Linked DNA regions of Homo sapiens: regions 1, 2, 4 and 5 are each linked to region 3. The links come from fine-mapping of genetic effects on gene expression. A gene starts in region 3. Each other region holds a variant in brackets. All regions are shown on one strand. Distances are from middle to middle. Region 1 overlaps ALDH3A2 (aldehyde dehydrogenase 3 family member A2). Region 2 holds the start of LOC105371578 (a long non-coding RNA gene). Region 3 holds the start of SLC47A1 (solute carrier family 47 member 1). Region 4 holds the start of LOC105371574 (a long non-coding RNA gene). Region 5 has its middle 31 kb from the start of TRW-CCA2-1.

Region 1 (5,000 bases), 140 kb after region 3:
AATTCCTGGGCTCAAGCAATCCTCCCACCTCAGCCTCCCAACGTGCTGGGATTACAGGTGTGAGCCACCGTGCCCGGTCAAATGCACGCATTTTAGAGACAGACAACTAATAAGTAGTAAAGCCAAGAAATGAGCCAAAGTTGTCTGGCTCCAAAACCCACATATTCAACCAATCCAGTAGTTTGCTCTTTAGGACACAGTACTATTTCAATACCTAAAAGTAAAAGCTCCTCATTATTACTGTTTTTCGATGTTTTCTTGCTTGTTCTTATCTAAATTTATTTTTCCAGATGATCTTTGGAATCACTACCTCCTCCTACTTAAAACAAACAAACAAAACCTTCCGAAATCCCCTAGGATTTTTATTAAAATTGATTTAAACTTAAATTATTTTGGGAAGAATTTATATCTTTAAAATGTGGAGTCTTAATGGGAATATGTTATATCATCTCTTCATTTATATAGCCCTTTTATATCTTTCAACAAAACTTTGTAATTTCCTTCATGTCAGTTTTTTGCTTTTTATTTATTTTTTGAGACAGGGTCTCACTCTGTTGACCAGGCTGGAATGCAGTGTGGCACAATCATAGCTCACTGCAACTTTGAACTCCTGGGCTCAAGCAATCCTCCTGCATCAGCCTCCCAAATTTTTCCCAGTTTCTTACTACCTTGGTTATGTCTTTGGCTCGCCCCTCCCTTATTCTTTTTTTTTTTTTTTTTGAGACGGAGTCTCGCTCTGTCGCCCAGGCTGGAGTGCAGTGGCGCGATCTCAGCTCACTGCAACCTCCGCCTCCCAGGTTCAAGCAATTCTCCTACCTCAGCCTCCCAGGTAGCTGGGACTACAGGCGTGCGCCACCACGTCCAACTAATTTTTGTATTTTTAGTAGAGACGGGATTTAACGATGTTGGCCAGGATGGTCTTGATCTCTTGACCTTGTGATCCACCCGCCTTGGCCTCCCAAAGTGCTGGGATTACAGGCGTGAGCCACCGCACCCGGCCCCCTCCCTCATTCTTTACCCTCCCTCAGAGTTAGGGTTTCTCATGGTCTTGTCCTTGGGTCTCTTCTCACACCAGGCCTGCTTCATGAATGATTCCTTCCTGCAGCCTGGCCTTGGTAAACTGCTCCCTGGCCTCTGGTCACCTGTGTCTTATATCACACATGCCATTCCCTCTGCCCAGCTCACACTGCTCCGCTTTGTGCCTGTCAGTCTGTTGTACACACAATGAATTAGAGAAATGAAACTGTCACAGAGCATGGCTTTGTGGAGGGCAGAGATTTACACTTGCTTATTATCATCCAGCTGTGCAACCTTGTTGCCCTGTCTTACTTTCCACAGGCTTTGAGAAAGCAAGTGGGTGTGTGGGGCCATGGATGAATGAAGCCACATGGGATGGTGGGAAGAGAGCACATATAGCATTTAGAGTCTGATCCAGGTTCGGGTTCTGGCTTTGCCACTTAGCAGCCGTGTGACCCTGGGCAGGTTAACTGACCCTGTAAGCTCCCTTTCCCTCTCTGGAAATGAGGCTGCTGATAATTCACCAAGTGGGATTGTGGTGAGAATTATCTTAAGAGAATGATTTAACTCTTAGCACAGTCCCTGGCATAAATGAGAGCCACAGCTCTAGAAGAGGTGCAAGTCCTTGTCTTGCTCATGGAAAGCATCCTGTTTGACAGGGAAATTGACTTTTCCAGGGAAGTTGGTAAGGACTTCCTGAAAAGAGATACTTCAGCTGGCAGAGATGTTCAGTGGGGTTCCCAGGCAGCAGGGAGTGCATGTGAGCTTTCCCGGTCGTTGTTAGACAGAAGTAGCTTGCATCATCTACAGTGAAGCTTGTTTTGTCTGTTCCCTTTATTTCAGGTTCCAGTGGGATGGGAGCTTATCACGGAAAACATAGTTTTGATACTTTTTCTCATCAGCGTCCCTGTTTATTAAAAAGTTTAAAGAGAGAAGGTGCTAACAAACTCAGATATCCTCCCAACAGCCAGTCAAAGGTGGATTGGGGAAAATTTTTTCTCTTGAAACGGTTCAACAAAGAAAAACTCGGTCTCCTGTTGCTCACTTTCCTGGGTATTGTAGCCGCTGTGCTTGTCAAGGTGAGTCCCTATAACCCATGAGTGCCATTCAGTCTGGTCCTGGCCTGATGGCTGCCAGATGCATATTCTAGCAGGACTCTACATTAACTTGTAGAGTCTAAGACAGGGTCAGTGAACCACAGCCTGCTGGCCAGCTACCCGTTTTTGTCACTGAAGTTATTGGAACACAGCCACACCCACTTGTTTAATCATCCACAGCTGCTTTCATGGGACAGTGACAGAGCTGAGTAGTTGCAACAGAGGCTGAATGGCCCTCAGAGCCTAAATTATTACAGAAAAGTTTGCTGATCTCTGGTCTAAGAGATTAAAACAGCGTAGAACTTGATTGCAGAATTCTGAGCTGTCTGATCAAAGGGTTAGCCCTTTGATCCTTTTGGTATTGGACTTTCCTTGTCACTTACAGCTTTGTTCTTGAATGTGCATGAAATCAGCTTACCACAGAGGTGAAGGC[A/G]AGAACTCTGGTACAACAGCTTTGGTGAGGGATATTTTATTAGGCTTGAGTTTTTTTCCTCCAAAGTTCACTACCTGATAAAGTTTATCTTTGGTGATTAGTCATTATAGGGATGGGCTTGCAAAGAGGCCCTCATGATAGCTGCCTTCTCAAAGCAGTTTGCGTATTTTGAGATGAAAGAGGAAATCCGTAATTAAAGTTAAGATGGAATGAGGAAGGCAATTGTGTCTGTGGTGCCCTCAGCCGTTCAACTGAGGATATAACATTGAAAATATTGACCATATCAGTGAAGAATGGGCTTGGAAAAGGCAATGGTAATAGTTGTGTTTATGTTTTGTTTAAAATTTGAAAGGGGGCCGGCGCAGTGGCTCACACCTGTAATCCTAGCACTTCGGGAGGCTGAGGCAGGGGAATCACGAGGTCAGGAGTTCAAGACCAGCCTGACCAATATGGTGAAACCCTGTCTCTACTAAAAATACAAAAATTAGCCAGGCATGGTGGCACGCACCTGTAGTCCCAGCTACTCGGGAGGCTGAGGGAGGAGAATCACTTGAACCCGGGAGGTGGAGGTTGCAGTGAGCCAAGATCATGCCACTGCACTCCAGCCTGGGCAATAGAGCGAGACTCCATCTCAACAACAACAACAACAAAAATTTGAAAGGGGTTTGGCTCATCTTACAGTATCCCAGCCTTAGTGGAATTGGAGATACCAGTTGCATTTGAAATCATTTGGGTTTTCTCAGAAATACCAAGCTGTGCTGAGGAGAAAGGCCCTGTTGATTTTTCTGGTAGTTCACAGACTGCGTTGGTCCAGTAAGCAGAGATGAACACCAGATTTCAAAACCCAGCCCTGTCTGTTAAGAGTGAGGTAGGAACTTTTTGTTTTCTTTCTATATGTAAGGTGGGCCAAGTTGGGGTATGTTTTCAAGGGTTTTTTGGTTTGTTTTTGTTTTTGTTTTTGTTTTTGTTTTTATTTTTGTTTTTTTTTTGCTACAGTTGGAGGCTTAAGGGTTATTGAAAAAAGAATGGGCCGGGCGCAGTGGCTCACGCCTGTAATCCTAGCACTTTGGGAGGCCAAGGCAGGTGGATTGCCTGAGTTCCGGAGTTCGAGAACAGCCTGGCCAACATGGTGAAACCCCATCTCTACTAAAAATACAAACGTTAGCTGGGTGTGGTGGTACGTGACTGTAGTCCCAGCTACTAGGGAGGCTGAGGCAGGAGAATTGCTTTAACCCGGGAGGCAGAGGTTGCAGTGAGCCAAGATTGTGCCACTGCACTCCACCCTGGGTGACAGAGCAAGACTCCGTCTCCAAAAAAAAAGAAAGAAAAAAGAATGTTTAACTTACTTATCTCTAGACATTTTGGACCTGGGCCCAGAGTATCAGGGTGTTAAAACTCCACTTATCCACAATTTTAAAAGGGTGAAGTGACTTGCTAGGAATCTAAGAGAAGTGTGCAGAGGCAATGGCTTAGCTGCGTCCAGGTGAAGCATACATCATTTCTTGGAAAAGGGCAGCTGAGTGTGAGCCTCATTTCTCTTCCCCTTCTACTCAGCTCTCCTGGGGGAGGTGCCAGCTGACTAATTCAGACTTGTCACCATCTAGGCACTGAACTCTTTATGTCATAATTTAAGAATATGTTTTTTAAATCACTAAGTAGTTTTGATTTGTTTTCATTTTTAAAAAAAGGTTTGACTTTGGAATTCATGGCAGCAAATGTCGTGAAATCAAGGTGTAGTATACAATTTAGGGGCTACTTTCTTTGCCTTCCTGAGGCTGGAGGTGTGGTCGGAAGCTTACTTGGGTCTCTGGTCAATATCTGTCTCTTTTGTTCTTTTCCCAAGACCTCGGTTCCTCAGTTTGATAATGCATCTTGGTAGGATAGAATATTTTAGCCTCATGGAAAATACGGAGGCCCAGGCTGAGTCTGCATTCTCCAATCTTACCAAACCCCCAAGAAGCCTCCCTCAGGTGCAGTGCAGTGTGCCAGGCAGGTTCGAGTTCCCAAAGGGTTTGGCAGGCATGTTTCTCTGTGAGGGTCTAGAGAAGCAGCAATATATAAAAGAAGCAGCAATATATAAAACCTTTAGCAGAAACAAAAAAATGTGGTTTGATTCCTGGCTCAATGAACTTGGGCAAGGCCTTTTCTGAGCTCTTTCTTGGGCCTCAGCTTGCTCATCTACAGGGTGAGGGAGTAGGTGTCAGTGATTCCCCAGGCCACTTTCAACCCTTCCGCTCAATTCTCATTACTAATAGTTGTTAATATTTCTTTGGATTCAATCTGGAACTAGGTAGAGATTTGGTTTTCTTTTCCACTTTGCTGCTTTTCTGCTCCTTTCTGAGCTTTTAATCCTCTTTTTATCAAATTACCTTTTATTTAAAATAAATGACTTTGAATCTGTACTGTATATTTACCTGAATAGTCTATTTATTGTAATTACATTTTTCTGAAAT
Region 2 (5,000 bases), 37 kb after region 3:
CTTCCCACATTTGGAAGAAAAAACTTAATCCACAGCATCTGAAATTACCAGAGCTAATCTTTTTAAAAAGTACGGAAATAAATGACTGCCCAGCTTTGATTTCTAAAATAATAATTTGGAACATATTGGCAGTTAATAAATGATGATATGAAAACCTGGACATTTATCTTTGGGGTGAGTAGTGACTGACTTAAAGCGTGGCTTGTTTTGATTCATCTGTACTTGGCAGGCTCAGAGGTGGTGAGAAGTCAACTGATACCTACAGGGAACTTCCAGTTCAGTATGTTCCTTTATGTGGCACATTTTTCTCAAGTTCAATAATATTTTAATTAAAAATACAGGAGTTGTTCAAAGAATAGTATTGCCAATGCAAAGTTCATTGGGCTTGCATGATAGTGCAGAAAATTATTTAGCTGAGTTTCTGGTGCGATTCATAGTTTGGATTTGCCAATTGCCTAGCTAATGCAAATATTATAGAAATCTAATTTATTTTTATTTTTAAAGTAATGTATTTTATGTAACACAATATGTCTAAAATTATTGCAACGTGCAATCAGTATAAAATATTAAGGAAATAATTTAAATTCTCTATATTATATCTTTTAAACTTTAAATTGACAAATTATAGTTGTATACATTTATGGGGTACAGTGTGGTGTTTTGATATATGTATAAAATGTGGAATGATTAAATTAAGCTAATTAACATACTTATCACCACTTATTTTTTATGGTGAGACATTTGAAATTTACTTAGTTAATTCAAAATGTGCAGTACATTGACTACAGTCACCCTGGTGTGCAATTGATCTCAAAACTTATTCTTCCTGTCTATCAGAAATTTGTACCTTAACAACTCCCCATTCCCATGCCCTCCCCTCCTTGCCACCAGTCCCTGCTAACCATCATTCTACTCTCTACTTCTATGAGTTCAACTTTTTTAGAAGAGGAGTCTACTTTATTCTCCTGTTTCATTTTTTACAGATGGGGTCTTGCTATGTTGCCCAGGCTGGTCTCAAACTCCTTGACTCAAGTGATCCTCCCACCTTGGCCTCCCAAGTATCTGGGATTACAGGCATGAGGAACCTGCTTTGAAATATAAATCCATCTGTATCCCAAGTGCCGTCCTTGGCTCACCTATTCATTTAACAGAATATATCTAGGCCAGGCACAGTGGCTCATGCCTGTAATTCCAGCACTTTGGGAGGCTGAGGTGGGTGGTTCACTTGAGGTTAAGAGTTTGAGACCAACCTGGGCAACTTGGCGAAACCCCGTCTCTACTAAAAATACAAAAATTAGCCAGGTGTGGTGGTGTGCGCCTGTAGTTCCAGCTACTTGGGAGGCTGAGGCACAAGAATTGCTTGAACCCGGGAGGCGGAGGCTGCAGTGAGCAAGATGGCACCACTGCACTCCAGCCTGGGCGACAGAGTGAGACTCTACCTTAAAAAAAAAAAGCGTAACTAATTGTGCAAAGTAGAAGAGGAAGTTGAGAATCACTGAAAAGAAATGGTGGGGGCCCTGGGGATGTGAGGGCTCTATGAGAAGCCTATAGTCAATCCCCCCCACCCACCTATTAGAAGAAATTGTGGTACGAATTGGTTTTGAGTATTGTGTCTCCTGGTATGGTATGCAGTATACCTATACAAGGTGTCTAGGAGAGCATCAGAATTCTGCAGGTTCTCAGAAGCAACCTCAGGAAATCATAATGACCCTCAGAATCCCTGGGAGACATTTTAAATATGTAAATTCCTGGGCCTTGCCCATGAGATCTAATAATCATCCCACTTTGGGCTCATAGGTTGGGTCAAATAGAAATCTTTTAAATGATGTATGCTAAAATTATTGGAAATCTAATTCATAACTTTCAAATTATAGCTGGAGTTAGCTGGTTATTTCCTGTTTAAGGTGGTTCAGGTGAGCTTGTAGTTTCTATGTACTGAGAACACTGGATTTGAAAGAGGAAGCCAGTAGCTTGCTTTTACTAATTTTTTATAGGACTAGCAGGTGGCACCAACTATACTATTCTAAGAGCAGGCTAGGCTGGGCGTAGTGACTCATACCTATAATCCTAGTGCTTTGGAAGCCAAGGCAGGAGGATCACTTGACTCTAGGAGTTGGAGGCTGTAGTGAGCTGTGGTCATGCCACTGCTCTCCAGCCTGGGCAACAGAGCAAGACCCTGACTCTAAAAAGCAAACAAACAAACAAAAGGGCAGGCTGATCATACCTGAAAAATGTGATTGGTACCAAGAAACAGAGCTGTAAAACCTGTACCGAATCCATAAACCAGGAACCCAGACTAGCCACCTTAACCCTTACATAGATCTGGACAGCTGTGGAAATAAACCAGGACCAACCAAGCAAGACAAGCAAAGTCTGTGTATTCTCAGCAAGGGTGTTGGCTGCCACCACTTGCATTTGGGCAGAAACTCAAAGGCAGGCAAAGGAGTGGGAAAGCGTCACAGTGGATAAAAGGGGAGGCTGCAGGTGTGTCCTGAGTGGAGATTGTTGATCTGGGGGATGCTGGAGGTGGCTGACTAGAAATGGGCCTCCCATGTGATTGGTTAGGGGGATGTATTTTACTTTCTCTGGTTGGTCCTAAGTTGGAAGTGCAGACCAAAATTAGGCAAGCTGTCAGTTGCTAATCAAGTCCTGGCCATCTGGGGCCAATCGTTACAGAAGTTACTGGTTAGCTTCCTGGATTGTTACCAAAGGCAGCGATCTTGCTTCCTGCAAGTCTGATT[T/G]AGGGAAGGCTGGCTTCCTGGGTTTATTGTAGATGGGGTGGGGTTTCTTGGGCAGGGTGCTGCAGGTTGTGAGGCAGAGGTCTGTTTTTATTACGGTCAGGACTTTGTCTCTTGGTTATTGTTGGAGCTTTTGGTTCTGCCATTAGTTTACTGTTGACCAAAAAACCCTCCTCACCTGGGGTCTCCCTCTGTGCCCTGTGTGGTGCCTTGAGATTCACAGGGCTTTTCCCGCCATCCATTCCCACCTGGCCTGCCTTTGGTGTTCTCCAGTCATCTGTAGGTGCTCAGCCCTGCTCTGGAAGCTTCTAGCAAAGTCTGTGTCAGAAGCAAGTTAAGGTCCAAGGTCTGGCAGGAACTCTGAGGAAGAGAACATTAGTAGTTTATATGGCTAGTGATTTCTGCTTTTTTTTTTTTTAATGTTAGTCCCCTTTTTTGAGGAAACCAGGGCAGAAGTAGTTGGTCCTGGGAAATTTTAATTTCCTTATAACTGGCATTTTTCTTAATATTCAAGCATTATAATCAGTAAGGCCAAAAATATCCTCTGAATATTTGTTCCGAAATCCTGAACCAAAAGAGATGGCCCTTTTGGGGGTGGCCTCAAGGAGTACTGGGCTTTCCAGAACCTTCTGGAACCTTCTGGAAGCCTGAGGAGGAGCAGGATAGAGGTCTCTGGCCCGCTGTGGGCTCCACCTCAGCCATGAAAGCAGATATTCAGTATGGCTGACAGAAGTGATATAGGCAAAACATACTCCCCAGGGGCAGCTGGTTTTCTATGGAATTAACCTCTATTAAATATTTCTATTTCTAGGTCTGTGGTCAGGGATCATCATCTGTACAGTCTTTCAAGCTGTGTGTTTTCTAGGCTTTATTATTCAGCTAAATTGGAAAAAAGCCTGTCAGCAGGTAACTATGTTCATTCTGTCCCGGTAAAGGTTCCTCTCCTAGAAAAACAGGATCTGATCTGGCTCTCCCTTTTTTCTTTTGGAAAGTTCTTTTCTCATTTTCTTTATTCTTATCTCATGAATACTATTGTTCTTGTTGTTTTAACTAGACAGTTCAGATGTGAAGGGCCAGATGATCCTGGCTTTATCTATTCCCAGAAAAACAGGGGACTCCTTTCTTCCTTGTCTCCCATGCCAGGCTGTCACCCTTGTGCAGGAAAATCCAATTTCAGGACAAGAATTAGAACTGGAGAGAAATGTGGGATGCATCAAAGTCATCCTGATGTTGTTTTTATGGTCTCCAAATGTTTTGTTAAGATACTTGTGTGCATCCTTCCCTTCAACTTTCTAGGGTCAGTGTGAGGTCTAGAAATAGGTGGTAGAAAAATGAGATGAGTCGAGGTACAGTGGCTTATGCCTGTAGTCCCAGCTATTCAGGAGGCTGAGGCAGGAGGATCGCTTGAGCCCTAGAGTTCGAGGCTGCAGTCATCTGTGATCACTGCACTCCAGCCTGAGTGATGGAGCGAGACCCTGTCTCTACAAATAAAAATGTTTTAAAAAGAAAGAGATAAAGTAAAAAGGGAGAGTTCTAAATGATCTTGGTCCCTCTCTTGTCCCTGTCTCCCTCACCCTGTACTGTTCCCATCCCACCTTCCCTTTCATGGACCCCATTTCAGCCTTTTCTGTTTTCTTTTTCTTAAGAGACAGGCTCTCACTCTGTCACCCAGGCTGGACTATAGTGGCAGGATCACATCTCGCTGGAGTCTCAACCTCCTGGGCTCAAGTGATCCTCCTGTCTCAGCCTCCCAGGTAGTTGGGAATACAGACATGCGCCACCATGCCTGGCTGTTTTTTTTGTTGTTGTTGTTATTTTTTTGTTTTTAATTTTTTAATTGAGATGGGATCTTGCTGTGTTGCGCAGGCTGGCCTTGAATTCCTGGGCTCAAGCAATCCTCTCTCCTCAGCCCCCCAAAGTGCTGGGATTACAGGTGTGAGCACTGAGCCTGGCCCCATTTCAATCTTTATGAAAGATGACCTGTGAATGAGAGGAACTTCAGCTATACATGCCAATTAAGGAAAATGGCTTGGCTCTTCCTAAACTAGGTGGTCAAGTAAAATACCATATTAACACTATTGTGAAGCCTGATGGACTGAGTTTCATTTTCCAGGCTCAGGTACACGCCAATTTGAAAGTAAACAACGTGCCTCGGAGTGGGAATTCTGCTCTCCCTCAGGATCCGCTTCACCCAGGTAAGATATGACTCCCTCAGCCCTTGGACAGGCCTGTCTAGGTAGGACTGGAGGGGCTGTTAGTGAG
Region 3 (5,000 bases):
AAGTAACAGGGTTCTTTGTTCTTTTAATTGTTTTGTTTTTTGTTTTTTATTGAGATAGGGTCTCACTCTGCTGCCCAGGCTGGAGTGCTGTAGTGCAATCATAGCTCACTGCAGCCTCAAACTGCGGGGCTCAGTCGATCCTGTCACCTCAGCCTCCCAAAGTGCTGGGGCTACAGGTGTGGGCTACTCACCTGTACAATGTGCTCAGCCAACCACACGTTGTTTTAAAAGCTATTTACCAGCCAATAGAGCTACTTCTTTCCTCCTTACTTTTCTTTTTCAGAGTTTTTGTTATATCTTTTCCTGTTTACACTATCAATTGCTTTTAGAATCATTCTATTAAATTTTAAAATAATGGAATACACAGTAGTGGACTAAAACCTAATATATTAATTGAAAATTAATTTTCCTGTGCTACTTTTTGGAAGGAAGTCACTGTGTACAATCCACCTTTAAGGAGTGAGGAGTTATGCTCTGTATCACGAGGACCTTTTGTTTTTTGTTGCTATTGTGAAAGATTTCTTTTAGTATTTTCATATATGTTATTACCAATATAAAGGACTGATATGACTTGTTGAAGAACTTCTATGTAGCAACTTTATTAAACCCCTTTATCAATTCTATTAGCTTTTGTTCATATTTTATTTCTTTGGGTTGTGTGGATTTTTTTTAAGAGATGGGGTCTCACTGTGTTGCCCAGGCTGGTCTCAAAACTCCTGGGTTCCAGTGATCCTCCCACCTCGGCCTTCCAAAGTGTTGGGATTATAGGCATGAGCCACTGTGCCTGGCCCGGTCTGTCAATTTCTACTGTGAGTAATCCCTTTGCCTTTTCTTTCCTAACATTATACATTACATTTCCATTTCCTGTCTTATTACATCAGTCAGGACTTCCAGAAAATTATCAAAAAACAGCAGTGATCAGAGATCTAGTGAATATCCTCGGGTATTTGTCTGTTGACACTCTCAGTTCTTTTGGGAAACTGCGCTACTCCATATGTACAGTCCTTGTGGGACGAGACCAGTCACAGGGCACCTAACCCTAACCCTGTAGGTTCAAAGCTGGGTGCATGGTCCAGGGCCAGCCAAACATCAGACCCTATTTTCCCACCCAGGGCGATTGTTCCAGAGGTGGGCAAGAAACCTAAGCAGGGCCAACCAGATTTTCTCCCAGTTTTTTGTTTGTTAGTTTGGAACCAGAAGAGAGGAGGGGAGGGCCTTACTTTCTGGTTTAACAGACGGGAAAGATAGGAACGAGGGTATCAGAGGCCACCACTGTCACTTGCACAGGAAGAGAAAGGCTGCCGGCAGAGGAGGAAGAGAAACTACGGAAAGAATCCCAAGGGGCGAGGAGAAGGGAGGAGAGGGACAGAGATGGGAAGAGGGACAACAAGAATGATCTGGTTTTGTTTTTTTTTTTTTTTTGAGTGGAGTCTCCCTCTGCCACCAGGCTGGAGTGCAGTGGCGAGATCTCGGCTCACTGCAACCTCTGCCTCCCGGGTTCAAGCAATTCTCCTGCCTCAGCCTCCCTAGTAGCTGGGATTATGGCGCGCGCCACCATGCACAGCTAATTTTCGGTACAGACGGTGTTTCACCATGTTGGCCAGGATGGTCTCGATCTCTTGACCTTGTGATCCGCCCGCCTAGGCCTCCCAAAGTGCTGGGATTACAGGCGTGAGCCACCGCGCCTGGCCTAATGACCTTGTTTTCAAATCCCTGAATCCAAACTTCCTGATTATGTGAGCCAAAAAATTTGTTTTCCATTTTCTCTACTTACATTGGATCATTACAACGGAAGGAATTTTGACTATTAGAGAAATCAATCTTGTCCTGGTAACTGACACTTATTAGGTAACGGCTGGTGCCAGGCTGAGGGCAGGTGGCACTGACTCCGGTCCTCCGCCCAGGCAACCCCAGTCTTCACAGCTGGCGACGAGTGTTCTTTCACGTTTGCAGATGAGGAAGCTGAGGCTCTGGGAGGAAAGCGCGCTGCTCCTGCCCTTCTGGGCCGCAGCCTCTCGTACTCCCACAGCAGGCTTGATGGATAAACTTCCAACACGACCAGCTGGCACAAACTGTGCTACTTGGCAAATGGGAGCATGTTGCTCTATCCTGGTAGATTCTAAGTTCTCTAATGGAACAACTGATGAGAGGAGAGGAGTATGCAACACCCTAACCAGCATCAAAGGGTGTACCCAACTCAATCTGCACAGCAAATGCGCCCAACCCCACACACCCCGCGGGGTGCTAACCGAGTCACGGCTCGAGGCCTCTGGGTCCTTCCACGCCAGGTCATTCAGAACCTGAAACCCCCAGCGGAGGTGGAGAGCCGGGGTGAGTCCTGGCGTCCGAGACGTGGAGGACCCAGCCCCCGGAGCGCGTTCCGTTAGTTTACAGAGCTTTTTCAAACTTTGCCTTCCAAGTGCAGGAGTTCCTTGGTCTTTGCAAGACCCGCAGGCGTCCGCAGTGGTGCAGAGAGAGGTGCAAGGGGCGCGCCCAAGGTCGCAGGCTGCCTGGCTGCGCGCTCAGTCGGGCCCCCGGGCGCCAGGCGCGGGGCGGGCTCTGGGCGGGCGGCCGGGGCGGGGACTGCAGAGCAGGCTGCACTGCGCGGTACCCACTGCCGGCCTGCGCGGTACTCACTGCCGGCCTCCGCGGTACCCACTGCCGGCCTCCGCGCTACCCGGCCGCAGCGCGCGAGTCACATGGAAGCTCCTGAGGAGCCCGCGCCAGTGCGCGGAGGCCCGGAGGCCACCCTTGAGGTCCGTGGGTCGCGCTGCTTGCGGCTGTCCGCCTTCCGAGAAGAGCTGCGGGCGCTCTTGGTCCTGGCTGGCCCCGCGGTGAGTAAGGTGGCCTCAGTGGCAGGCCGGTACCGGCGGGCTGGGGACCTGGTGATTTCTGCCTCCGCGGGTGACTTTGGCGGGCTTTGGGGACCGAGCGAGCTGTCCGCCGGCGGGCTCCGGGGAGCATCGTGCCAGGAGCCGGGCGGGCACCCCAGCTCCTCTGCCTGCGTCCCGGCCGCTTTCCGCTCCGCACCACCCGACTGGGGGCCCCGCGGGGCACTGCGGGAACGGCTGGTACGCGCCCGGGCGCATGTTGGCTCGGAGAGGCCGGCGGCTCCAGCCTCCTGCGCCAGGAGACACCGGAGAGCTGGGACCTTTGCCCCTAACGGGGCTCTACCAGGTCCAGGCTGCATTTGCATCCGGGGGTGCCTTCTCTGGGAGCTGATTCCGGCCAATAAAACGCAAGTTGCCTGAACTTCAAAACACAAGGGAACTTGTTTCTTTGAAAAGTAGCGGTCAAAAGTTCGGGAGCTCTGCGATCTAAATAATCCCGAGGCACGGAGGAGGGGGTGCGTGGTCTGTCGTGGACTCAGAGCTGCGAAATGATTTCTTCAGAATTCAGTCAACCTCTACCGAGGAAACCAGAGGCATCCTGTACCACCCCCTCCCCGCCAGTAATTATGTATGTGAAAGAAAAAAGGGGTTTTAATGTGGTTCTTTGTGGGGTCGAGGTGTTCTTATCTGTGGGATTCTTTTCTTTTTAATCATTAGGTTAGGGCTGTTTCTGCCTTGTCTCCTAAAAATAATGTGGTTTTAAAAACCACAAAAACACAATCCTATCCACGTTCTCCTGCCAGCTTGGGTGGTTTTCAAACCGAGAGGGTAGGACGCGGCACAAGAAGCAACTGGTATGCACTTAAGGCGTGAATAAGCTTTTGACTTTGAGGCCCACATTCTGCACCTGCGCGGGCTGAGGGGGGCCGCTGTGCCTCTGGAGTGGGGGCTCGGTAGTTTGTGGGATATTGTGGCACCCGCTGTGGTGTGCAGGACAGCAAGGGTAATGCCGAGGTCAAAGCCATGGAATAAGATCCATCAGCCATGCTTTCTCACAGACCAGAAAGAACTCATGATTTGGGGCTGGGCGCGGTGGTTCACGCCTGTAATCCCAGCACTTTGGGAGGCTGAGGCAGATGGATCACTTGAGGTCAGGAGTTCGAGACCAGCCTGGCCAATATGGTGAAACTCCGTCTCTACTAAAAATACAAAAATTAGCCAGACGTGGTGGCGGGCGCCTGTAGTGCCAGCTACTCCAGAGGCTGAGGCACGAGAATCGCTTGAACCTGGGAAGTGGAGGTTACAGTGAGCCAGGATGGTGCCACTGCACTCCAGCCTGAACAACAGAGTAAGACTTGGTCTCAAAAAACAAAACAAAACAAAACAAAAACACCTCATGGCTGGGCGTGGTGGCTCACGTCTGTAATCCCAGCACTTTGGGAGGCCAAGGCAGGCGGATCACGAGGTCAAGAGATTGAGACCATCCTGGCCAACCTGGTGAAACCCCGTCTATACTAAAAATACAAAAAATAAAAAATAAAAATTAGCTGGGCATGGTGGCAGGCGCCTGTAATTCCAGCTACTTGGGAGGCTGAGGCAGGAGAACCGCTTGAACCCGGGAGGCGGAGGTTGCAGTGAGCCCAGATCGCGCCATTGCACTCCAGCCTGGGCAAAAAAACACCTCATGATTTGGAATCTCAAGACCTGGGGCTGCGTGCCCTGCTTTGACCTCCGAAAGTAAGTCAGGAAGCAGCTGTGCAGATTGAAACAGCCTCCTAACCTCTTCTGGTCTCTGCATATTCATTTGTAAAATGGAGATAATAATCATGTCTTGGTTCAACACTCCCTCACAGAGCTGCTGTGAGAAGGGGCTTTCTAAGGCTATTATTGTTTTATTATTATTATTATTTTTTGAGACAGGGTCTTGATCTGTCGGCCAGGCTGGAGTGCAGTGGTGTGATCACAGCTCACTGCAGCCTCAACTTCTGGAGTAGCGGAGATTACAGGCACACACCACCATGCCTGGCTAATTTTTGTATTTTGGGTTAGAGATAGGGTCTCCCTGTGTTGCCCATTGCTTGAATTCCTGGGCTAAAGCAATCCTCCTGCCTCGGCCTCCCAAGAGCTGGGATTATAAGCATAAGCCACCTTGCCCAGCCTGTTATTGCT
Region 4 (5,000 bases), 70 kb before region 3:
GGGTTCAGAGACTTGTCCTACATTCAGTTGGCAGTGGGACCTTGGATAGGTCATCCTCTCTGAGCCCTAATAAATTCACCAATAAACTGGAAACATCTCCTGATTGGTCACGGGTGGAAGGTCAGTGGGATGGAGAAGGATGACTGTGGGCAGCTGGGAGTACTTCCCTAGAGGGAGCCAAGTGGGCAAGCAGCCCCAGCATGATGTCACAGATGGCCCATTGTGACTTATATTTAAAATTTATATTCAAAAGGGAAGCAGAGCATAAAAGTTTGGAAATTTTGCAGCTTGAGCATGTGGCAGAAAAAGTAAAAGCACTATCAGGGGAAGAATTAAAGCAGGCTGCAGAATAATCATTTGCTAGAGAAATTTGCATAACTGAAAGGGAGCCAAGTGCTAATTAACAGCCAAGACAATGGGAAAAGGGCCTCAAAGGCATTTCACAGACCTTTAAGGAAGCTCCTCCCATCACAGGTGCAGAGGCCTAGAAAGAAAGAATGGTTTTATGGGCCCAGCCTGAAGTGTGCCCTGTGCCACTTAGGGAGGCTCCAGCTCCAGCCATGGCTCAAAGGGCCCTAGGGACAGCTTGGGCCACAGCCACAGAGGGTGCAAGCCATAAGCCTTGGTGGCTTCCATGTGGTGTTAAGCTTGTAGGCTGGCAGAGTACAACAGTGAATGAGGCTTGGCAGCTTCCCCCTAGATTTCAGAGGATGTATGAGAAAGCCTGGGTGCCCAAGCAGAAACCTACAGCAGGGCTGGAGCCCTCAGAGAGAACCTCTACTAGCACAGTATTGCCCAGCCTCAGGTATTCCTTTATAGCAATGCAAGAATGGCCTAACACAACCAGAAAGCCTCAGGACCTTTGGCCAACAAGCGAATAGAAACTAGTGTGTGGGACAGAGCACCATGTGGCAAACACCTGAGTAGAAAGAGAAAACCTCCGAAGAGGTGGAATAGTGGAAATGTGGGGTTGGAGGCCCCACACACAAAATCCCCACTGGTGCACTGTTTAGTGGAGCTCTGGGAAGGGGGGCTAATGTCCTCCAGGCCCTGGAATGGTAGAGCCACTGGCAGCTTGTACCCTTGTGCCCAGAAAACTGTGACAGGAGCGACGGGAGCTGAACCTTGCAAAGCCACAGGGGCGGAGCTGCCCAAAGCCTTGGGAGTCCAGACCTCATGCCAGTGTCCCTGGATGTGGGACATGGAGTCAAAGGAGATTCTTTTAGAGTTTAAGTTTTTTTTGTTTTGTTTTTGTTTTTTGTTATTTTGAGACAGGGTCTTGTTCTGTTGTCCAGGCTGGAGTGCAATGGTGTGATCTTGGCTTACTGCAACCTCCACCTCCCAGGCTCGAACGATCCTCCCACCTCAGCCTTCTGAGTAGCTGGGACCACAGGTGCACACCACCATACCCAGATTATATATATATATGTATGTTTATATATATAATATATATGTGTATGTTTATACATTATATATAATATGTATAATATATGTGTGTGTATGTTTATATATAATATATAATATTAATATTATATGATATATTATATATATAATATTATATATATGTGTGTGTGTATATATATGTAGAGATGAAGTTTAGCTATGCTGTCCAGGCTGGTCTCAAACTCTCAAGCTCAAGTGATCCACCTGCCTCGGCCTCTCAAAGTGCTAGGATTACAGGCATGATCCACCATGCCCAGCCTGGAGCTTTAAGATTTAATGACTGCCCTACTGAGTTTCTGACTTAATTGGAGCCTGTAGCCCTTTCCTTTTGGCCAATTTCTCCCTTTTGGAACAGGAATGTTTACCCAATGCCCACTTCCCCATTGTATCTTAGAAGTAAATAACTTGTTTTGATTTTACAGGCTTATAGATGGAGGAAGGAAATGAGTCTCAGATGAAACTCTGGACCTGGACATGGGACTTTGTGTTAATGCTGGAATGAGTTAAGACTTTGGGAGACTATTGGGGCCAGGCATGGTGGCTCATGCCTGTAATCCCAGCACTTCGGGAGGCCAAGACAGGTGGATCACTTGAAGCCAGTTGGTCAGACCAGCCTGACCAACATGGTGATACCCCGCATCTACTAAAAATACAAAAATTAGCCAGACACGGTGGCGCATGCCTGTAATCCCAGCTACTCGGATTGCTGAGGCATGAGAATCACTTGAACCCAGGAGGCAGAGGTTGCAGTGAGCCAAGATAGTGCCACTGCACTCCGGCCTGGGCAACAGAGTGAGGCACTGTCTAAAAAAAAAAAAGACTTTGGGAGACTATTGGGAAGGCATGATTGTATTTTGCAATGTGAGAAGAATATAAGATTTGGAGGGGCCAGGGGCAGAATGATAGAGTTTGGATGTTTGTCCCTGCCCAAACCTCACGTTGAGATGTAATCCCCAATGTTGGAGGTGGGGCTTGGAGGGAGGTGCTTGGATCGTGGGAGCAGATTCTTCGTGGCTTGGTGCTGTCCTCGTGATAGTGAGTTCTGCTGAGGTCTGGTTGTTTAAGTGTGCAGCTTCACTGGTGCAATGCTTTCTCTGCTTCTGCTTTCCCCATGTGACATGCTGCTCTCACTTCCCCTTCCACCACAAGTAAAAGCTCTGACACCTCCCCAGAAGCTGAGCAAATGCTGGTGCCCTGCTTCCTGTACAGCCTGCAGAACCGTGAGCCACTTAAACCTCTTTTCTTTATATTAGGTTGGTGCAAAAGTAATTTGCAGCTTTTGCATTAAGAAAAAGTAGCAAAAACTGCAATTATGTTTGCACCAATCCAATAAATTGCCCAGCCTCAGGTATTCCTTTATAGAAATGCAAGAATGACCTAACACATCCAGAGAGCCTCAGGACACCTGGGCAACAGGGGAATAGAAGCCAGGGTGTGGGACAGAGCATTGTGTACTGAACACCTGAGTAGGAAGAGGAAACCTCCGCTGGGTGTGGTGGCTCATGCCTGTAATCCCAGCACTTTGGGAGGCTGAGGCAGGTGGATCACCTGAGGTTGGGAGTT[T/G]GAGACCAGCCTGGTCAACATGGTGAAAACCTGTCTCTACTAAAAATACAAAAATTAACCAAGCGTGGTGGCGCATGCCTGTAATCCCTGCTACTCGGGAGGTTGAGGCAGGAGAATCACTTGAACCCGGGAGGTGGAGGTTGTGGTGAGCCGAGATCATGCCATTGCACTCCAGCCTGGGCCACAAGAGCCAAACTCCATCTCAAAAAAAAAAGAAAAAAGAAAACCTCCAAGGAGGAACCCTGTAGAAAACTGCAATGTGACACGTGTTCACTGCACGTGGCACAAGCCGGAGAAGAAAATGTAAATAAAGCCTAGGAACAAAAACTCAGAGCCCTAATGAGTAAGTTTGGATTTGCAGGAGAGGGGAAAGACACGCTTGGCACTCACAGCCTCACTGAGTACATTTTCTCCACCTAAGTGAGTCCACATGTTAATTTACTCATCGGGGAGCAGCCAGCACAAAGCCTGTCCCCCCCAGTGATATGAACACCCTGGCCAGGCACATGCAGCCAGCAGTGCATCCTCACTGGGACCATATCCATGGCTCCTGTGCTCTGCGACTCTGCTCCTGCCTGGGTAAGGCTTCTGTCCCCACAAAGACCACCACTGTTCTGCTTTTCTCCCACTCTGGGTAAGTTTTGCCTATTCTGGAACCTCCTATTCATGGGCTCATACAATATGTTCTCCGTTGGGAACTATGTTCTTTTTGTGCAGCGTGAGGCTGTGTGTGCCAGCGGTGCTTTTATTGCTGAGCAGTGTTCCATTGTGTGCCTGACCACAGATTGCTTTTCATTCTGCTATTGGTGGAATCCTGGGATATTTCCAGTTTGGGGATACTATGAATGAAGCTGCTATGAACATCCTTATACGAATCTTCTGGTGAAGTCATCATAGAATTTGGAGACCAAGTTTTTGCCATCATTTATTCGGAGCCTAAAGGACCAGACGAAAAACCTGCCCAGGGTCACACAAGACTGAGAAGCCCAGTAAAGCACTCTCTGACGTCAGCGACTCAGGTCCTTTGGTCCTGTGCCTGGCTTGGACAGAGTCAGGCTTGTTCAACACTCTCTCCCCATCACCTCAGGTTCCCCATATCCCATTTACAACATCAGGATTAGCTCCCAGGCTTCTGTGGGGTGAAGAATGGGGACTGGTTTTCCTGTTTCACTTTTAGCCTGGGCTTAGGCTATGAGCAGGTCAGAAAGGGGCAATGAGGCTGGTTGCAGTGGCTCATGCCTGTAATCCCAGCACTTTGGGAGGCCAAGGCGGGTGGATCACCTGAGGTCAGGAGTTCAAGACCAGCCTGGCCAACATGGCAAAACCCCATTTCTACTAAAATACAAAAATTAGCTGGGGGTGGTGGTGCATCTCTCTAATCCCAGCTATTGGGAGGCTGAGGCAGGATTGCTTGAACCTGGGAGGCGGAGGTTTCAGTGAGCTGAGATCACGCCACTGCACTCCAGCCTGGGTGACAGAGCGAGACTTCATCTCAAAAAAAAAGTGGGGGGGGGGTGGCAAGGAGAGCAATGAGATCATATTTCCCATGTGCTGTGTGAACACTGGTGCTCTGTGAAAGGGCCACATACGCAAAGCAGCCCCAAACGCAGAAGGAGCTGAGAAACCAAAGAACAAGGCACACACATCCAGTGTGTCAGCAAAGGGTGGTTTATTTGGGGAATTTAAGGCAGAAGCATGGTCTTGGGTGACAGCAAGACAGGTGTCCACACTCCCAGACCCAGGGCTTGTACACCATGGAGAAAGTGTGCATTGCTCTACAGAGACAATGGCAGCAATCCAGAGCAGGCAGGAATGCTGTGCATCATAGCCTAGAATTTGTGTGATAACATCAGGGTTGACACGTTCTCACACTAAGGACAGGAAATTAAGTCCAGGCCCTTTCATGGAACACCAGTGTTCCATGGTGTTCCTGATTAAGTGTAGGAATCAGGAGGCATTCCTGGGACTGGAGCTAATCAGAGTCAACACGGCAG
Region 5 (5,000 bases), 57 kb before region 3:
ATTTTGAGGATATTTAAAATGTAATTATTTTCTTAATTTTATTTTTGAATTATTCATTGCTAGTATATATTTTTTTATTTTTAATTTCTTTTTTTTAACATTTTTTTAAGAGATGGGATCTTGCTATGTTGCCCAGGCTGGTCGTGAACTGCTGAGTTCAAGCACTCCTCCTTGGCCTCCCAAAGTGCTGGGATTATAGGTGTGAGCCACCACACCCAGCCCATTGCTAGTATGTAGAAATACAATGGATTTGGCTGGGCGCAGCAGCTGATGCCTGTAATCCCAGCACTTTGGGAGGCAGAGGTGGGCGGATCATGAGGTCAAGAGATCAAGACCATTCTGGCCAACATGGTGAAACCCCATCTCTACTAAAAGTACAAAGATTAGCTGGGCGTGGTGGCGCTCGCCTGTAGTCCCAGCTACTCGGGAGGCTGAGGCAGGAGAATTGCTTGAACCTGGGAGGCGGAGGTTGCAGTGAGCTGAGATCACGCCACTGCACTCCAGCCTGGCGACAGAGTGAGAATCTGTCTGAAAAAAAAAAAAAAAAAAAAAAAAAAAAAGCAATGGATTTTTGCATAGCAATCTTTTATCCTGCAAACTTGTGGAATTAAAACGTTTTAGTGGATTCCTTAGGATTTTCTGCATATCCTGTGGATTCATCTGGAATAGGGATAGTTTTACTTCTTCCTTTCCAATCTAGATGACTTTTATTTCTTGTTTTTGTTTAAAATCTCTACTACAAGGTTTAAAAGAAGTGATGGTCTTCTAAGTTCTTGATCTTAGGACTGGGGTAAAACATCTGTCTTTCACTATTAAGTGCAATGTTAGCTGTAGGCTTTTCTTAAGGTGCCCTTTAGAAAAATCCCACGCTCCCTCTCCCTCCCCCTCCCCCCTCCCTCTCCCTCTCCCCACGGTCTCCCTCTCCCCACGGTGTCCCTCTCCCTCTCTTTCCACGGTCTCCCTCTGATGCCGAGCCGAAGCTGGACTGTGCTGCTGCCATCTCGGCTCACTGCAAACCTCCCTGCCTGATTCTCCTTCCTCAGCCTGCCTAGTGCCTGCGATTGCAGGCGCGCGCCGCCACGCCTGACTGGTTTTCGTATTTTTTTGGTGGAGACGGGGTTTCGCTGTGTTGGCCGGGCTGGTCTCCAGCTCCTAACCGCGAGTGATCCGCCAGCCTCGGCCTCCCGAGGTGCCGGGATTGCAGACGGAGTCTCGTTAACTCAGTGCTCAATGTTGCCCAGGCTGGAGTGCAGTGGCGTGATCTCGGCTCCCTACAACCTCCACCTCCCAGCCGCCTGCCTTGGCCCCCCAAAGTGCCGAGATTGCAGCCTCTGCCCAGCCGCCACCCCGTCTGGGAAGTGAGGAGCGTCTCTGCCCAGCCGCCCATCATCTGGGATGTGAGGAGCACCTCTGCCTGGCTGCCCAGTCTGGAAAGTGAGGAGCGTCTCTTCCCGGCCGCCATCCCATCTAGGAAGTGAGGAGCGTCTCTGCCCGGCCACCCATCGTCTGAGATGTGGGGAGCGCCTCTGCCCCGCCGCCCCGTCTGGGATGTGAGGAGCGTCTCCGCCCGGCAGCCACCCCGTCCGGGAGGGAGGTGGGGGTCAGCCCCCCGCCCGGCCAGCTGCCCCGTCCGGGAGGGAGGTGGGGGGGTCAGCCCCCGGCCCGGCCAGCCGCCCCGTCCGGGAGGTGAGGGGCGCCTCTGCCCGGCCGCCCCTACTGGGAAGTGAGGAGCCCCTCTGCCCGGCCACCACCCCGTCTGGGAGGTGTACCCAACAGCTCATTGAGAACGGGCCATGATGACAATGGCGGTTTGGTGGAATAGAAAGGGGGGAAAGGCGGGGAAAAGATTGAGAAATCGGATGGTTGCTGTGTCTGTGTAGAAAGTAGAAGACATGGGAGACTTTTTTTTTGTTCTGTACTAAGAAAAATTCTTCTGCCTTGGGATCCTGTTGATCTATGACCTTACCCCCAACCCTGTGCTCTCTGAAACATGTGCTGTGTCCACTCAGGGTT[A/G]AATGGATTAAGGGTGGTGCAAGATGTGCTTTGTTAAACAGATGCTTGAAGGCAGCATGCTCGTTAAGAGTCATCACCATTCCCTAATCTCAAGTACCCAGGGACACAAACACTGCGGAAGGCCGCAGGGTCCTCTGCCTAGGAAAACCAGAGACCTTTGTTCACTTGTTTATCTGCTGACCTTCCCTCCACTATTGTCCTATGACCCTGCCAAATCCCCCTCTGCGAGAAACACCCAAGAATGATCAATAAAAAAATAAATAAAAATAAAAATAAAAATAAAAATCCCACGCTATTCCAAGACTGTTGGATGCTGACTTCCCTTTCCTAGACTTTATTGTGAAAGGGTGTTGGATTTTGTCAAATGCTTTTTCCATGTCTATTGGATTTTTTAGATTCTATTGATATGGTGTCTTACATTAATTGATTTTGGGATTTTAAACCAGCCTGATATTCCCTGGACAAATCCCACTTAGGCATGTCATATAGCTCTTTTTACATTTTGCTGAATGTGGTTTGCTCTGGATTTTGTTGAGGATTTTTTTCCTCTATATTTAGATTAGACATTGATCTGTAGTTTGCTTTTCTTGTGATATCTTTGATTTGGGTAGCAGGGTAATACTGGCCTCATAGAATGAGCTAGGAAATGTTCCCTCTTCTTCTGTCTTTTGGAAGAGTTTGTAAAGAATTTATATTACTTCTTTAAATGTTCAGGAGAATTTTCCTGTAAAGCCCTCTGGGACTAGGCTTTCCTTTGTGGGTAGTTTACTAATTCAATCTCTTGTTATAAGTTTATTCATATTTTCTGTTTCTTGTGTCAGTTTTGGTAATTTGTGTGTCTCTAAGAATTTGCCCATTTCATCTAACTTACCTAATTTGTTAGCACTTAAGTGTTCGTAGTATTCCTTCATAATCCTTTTTGTTGGTAGTAACGTCCCCATTCATTCTAGTCCTTCATTTCTAATTCTAGAATGGAGAAGAATATGTGTTCTACTGTTGTTGGGTGGAGTGTTCTAAATGTGTCTATTAGTTGATTCATAATGATGCTCAAGCCTTCTATTTTCTTCTTGCTCTTCTAATTGTTCTATCTATTAAAAGTGGGTGGAGCCGGGCACAGTGGCTCACGCCTGTAATCCCAACACCTTGGGAGGCTGAGGTGGGCAGATCACCTGAGGTCAGGTGTTCAAGACCAGCCTGGTTAACGTGGAGAAACCCCGTCTCTACTAAAAATACAAAATTAGCCGGGTATGGTGGCGCATACCTGTAATCCCACCTACTCTGGAGGCTGAGGCAGGAGAATCTCTTGAACCCAGGAGGTGGAGGTTGCAGTGAGCCGAGATCTCACCATTGCTCTCCAGCCTGGGCAACGAGAACGAAACTCCGTCTCAATAAATAAATAAATTAATTAATTAATTAAATGTGGGGTACTGAAGTCTCCAACTATTATTAACAGCTTTATATTTATCCCTTCAATTCATGTATTTTGGGACTCTGTTGCTAGGTACATATATTATTTATAATTGTTATTCTTCTGGATGAATTTTGTCAATACAGATGCTCCTCAACTTAAACAATGGGATTACATCCTGATAAGCTTATTGTAAGTTGAAAATTTGGTACGTTGAAAATGCATTTAATATACTGAACCTACTAAACATCACAGTTTAGCCTAGCCTATCTTAAACAAGCTCAGAACACTTACATTAGCCTAGAGTTGGACAAAATCATCTAACACAAAGCCTATTTTATAATAAAGTGTTGAATATCTCATGTAATTTATTGAATATTGTACTGAAAGTGAAAAACAGGGCCTCTAATCCGCGGCTCTGGCCAGGCCCACCGTGCCCTGCACTGGGGGTCCTGGCAGCCACTAAATATTTTTGTTTAATTTTTTTAAAAATCAAAAGTATGAAGTATGGTTTCTACTGAATGTGTCCTGCTTTCCCACCATCATAAACTTGAAAATTTTATCCAAATCATTTTAGTCGGGGACCATCTGTATGTAATGTTCCAATTTGTCTGTGGTAAAGTTAGTTTGTTTTGTTTGGTTGGTTTTGGTTTTTTTGAGACAGGGTCTTGGTCTGCCACCCAGGCTAGAGTGAAGTGTGTGACCATAGCTCACTGTAACTGTGAACTCCTGGGCTCAAGCAATCTTCCTGCCTCAGCCCTTTTTCTGGGGCAGGTGTTTCGGGGGACAGGATCTTGCTCTGTTGCCCAGGCTGGAGTGCAGTGGTGCAATCTTGGCTCACTGCAACCTCCGCCTCCCAGTTTCAAGCGATTCTTATGCCTCAGCCTCTTGAGTAGCTGGGATTACAGGCACATGCCACCACTCCCAGCTAATTTTTGTATTTTTGTGGAGATGGGGTTTCGTCATATTGGCCAGGGTGGTCTCGAACTCCTGACCTCAAGTGATCCACCTGCCTCAGCCTCCAAAGTGCTCGGATTACAGGCGTGAACCACTGCGCCTGGCCTATAAAGAATAACTTCTGACATTTTGCTATTTGTTTTCCATATGCCCTACATCTCTCTCCTCCTTCAATTAGTTCATTAACTGCGGTTTCTTGTGTTTGATTTTTTCTAGAGTATTTTTTGTTGTTGTATCTACCAACTTAGCACATTTCAAGTCTTTAATATACTATTGTTAACTACATTCACATTGCTGTACATTAGATCCACATCCTCACTAACATGTTCTTTTGTCTTTTTCATAATAGCCATTTTAACAGGTGTGAGGTGATACCTAATTGTGGGTTTGATTTGTATTTCCCTAATGATTGGTGGTGTTGAGTGCCCTTTCATATACCTACTGGCTACTGTATGTATGTCTTCTTTTTTTTTTTTTTTTTTGAGATGGAGTCTCACTCTGTCACCCAGGCTGGAGTACAGAGGTATGATCTCAGGTCACTGCAACCCCCACCTTTGGGGCCCAAGCAATTCTCCTGCCTCAGCCTCCCATGTAGCTGGGAAAACAGGTATGTCCCACCACA

The links. PIP is the estimated chance that this variant, and not a neighbour inherited with it, causes the effect. A credible set is the group of variants that fine-mapping cannot tell apart.
Region 1: its variant is the best candidate, but not a certain one, in a credible set for the expression of SLC47A1 in whole blood (INTERVAL, PIP 0.68).
Region 2: its variant is the best candidate, but not a certain one, in a credible set for the expression of SLC47A1 in whole blood (TOPMed, PIP 0.71).
Region 4: its variant is the best candidate, but not a certain one, in a credible set for the expression of SLC47A1 in whole blood (TOPMed, PIP 0.55).
Region 5: its variant is the best candidate, but not a certain one, in a credible set for the expression of SLC47A1 in whole blood (TOPMed, PIP 0.58).

What each region holds. Positions count from the first base shown.
Region 1 is chr17:19,669,861-19,674,860 of GRCh38, forward strand. It overlaps ALDH3A2 (aldehyde dehydrogenase 3 family member A2), which reads left to right. Exons shown (of 10, transcript NM_000382.3): 9 at 1,861-2,096. Among named protein-coding and RNA genes, the nearest start is that of ALDH3A2, 24 kb to the left of the region's middle. The variant A/G (reference allele first, on the strand shown) is at 2,548.
Region 2 is chr17:19,567,929-19,572,928 of GRCh38, forward strand. SLC47A1 (solute carrier family 47 member 1) reads left to right here. Exons shown (of 17, transcript NM_018242.3): 15 at 3,550-3,644; 16 at 4,852-4,933. It overlaps LOC105371578 (a long non-coding RNA gene), which reads right to left and starts at 3,550. Exons shown (of 3, transcript XR_934310.4): 1 at 2,917-3,550. The variant T/G (reference allele first, on the strand shown) is at 2,742.
Region 3 is chr17:19,531,241-19,536,240 of GRCh38, forward strand. It overlaps SLC47A1 (solute carrier family 47 member 1), which reads left to right and starts at 2,614. Exons shown (of 17, transcript NM_018242.3): 1 at 2,614-2,834. The coding sequence starts at 2,700.
Region 4 is chr17:19,460,806-19,465,805 of GRCh38, forward strand. It overlaps LOC105371574 (a long non-coding RNA gene), which reads right to left and starts at 166. Exons shown (of 3, transcript NR_188341.1): 1 at 1-166. RefSeq lists enhancers at 1-462, 2,103-2,648. The variant T/G (reference allele first, on the strand shown) is at 3,007.
Region 5 is chr17:19,474,435-19,479,434 of GRCh38, forward strand. No RefSeq gene overlaps it. Among named protein-coding and RNA genes, the nearest start is that of TRW-CCA2-1, 31 kb to the right of the region's middle. RefSeq lists an enhancer at 672-1,509. The variant A/G (reference allele first, on the strand shown) is at 2,014.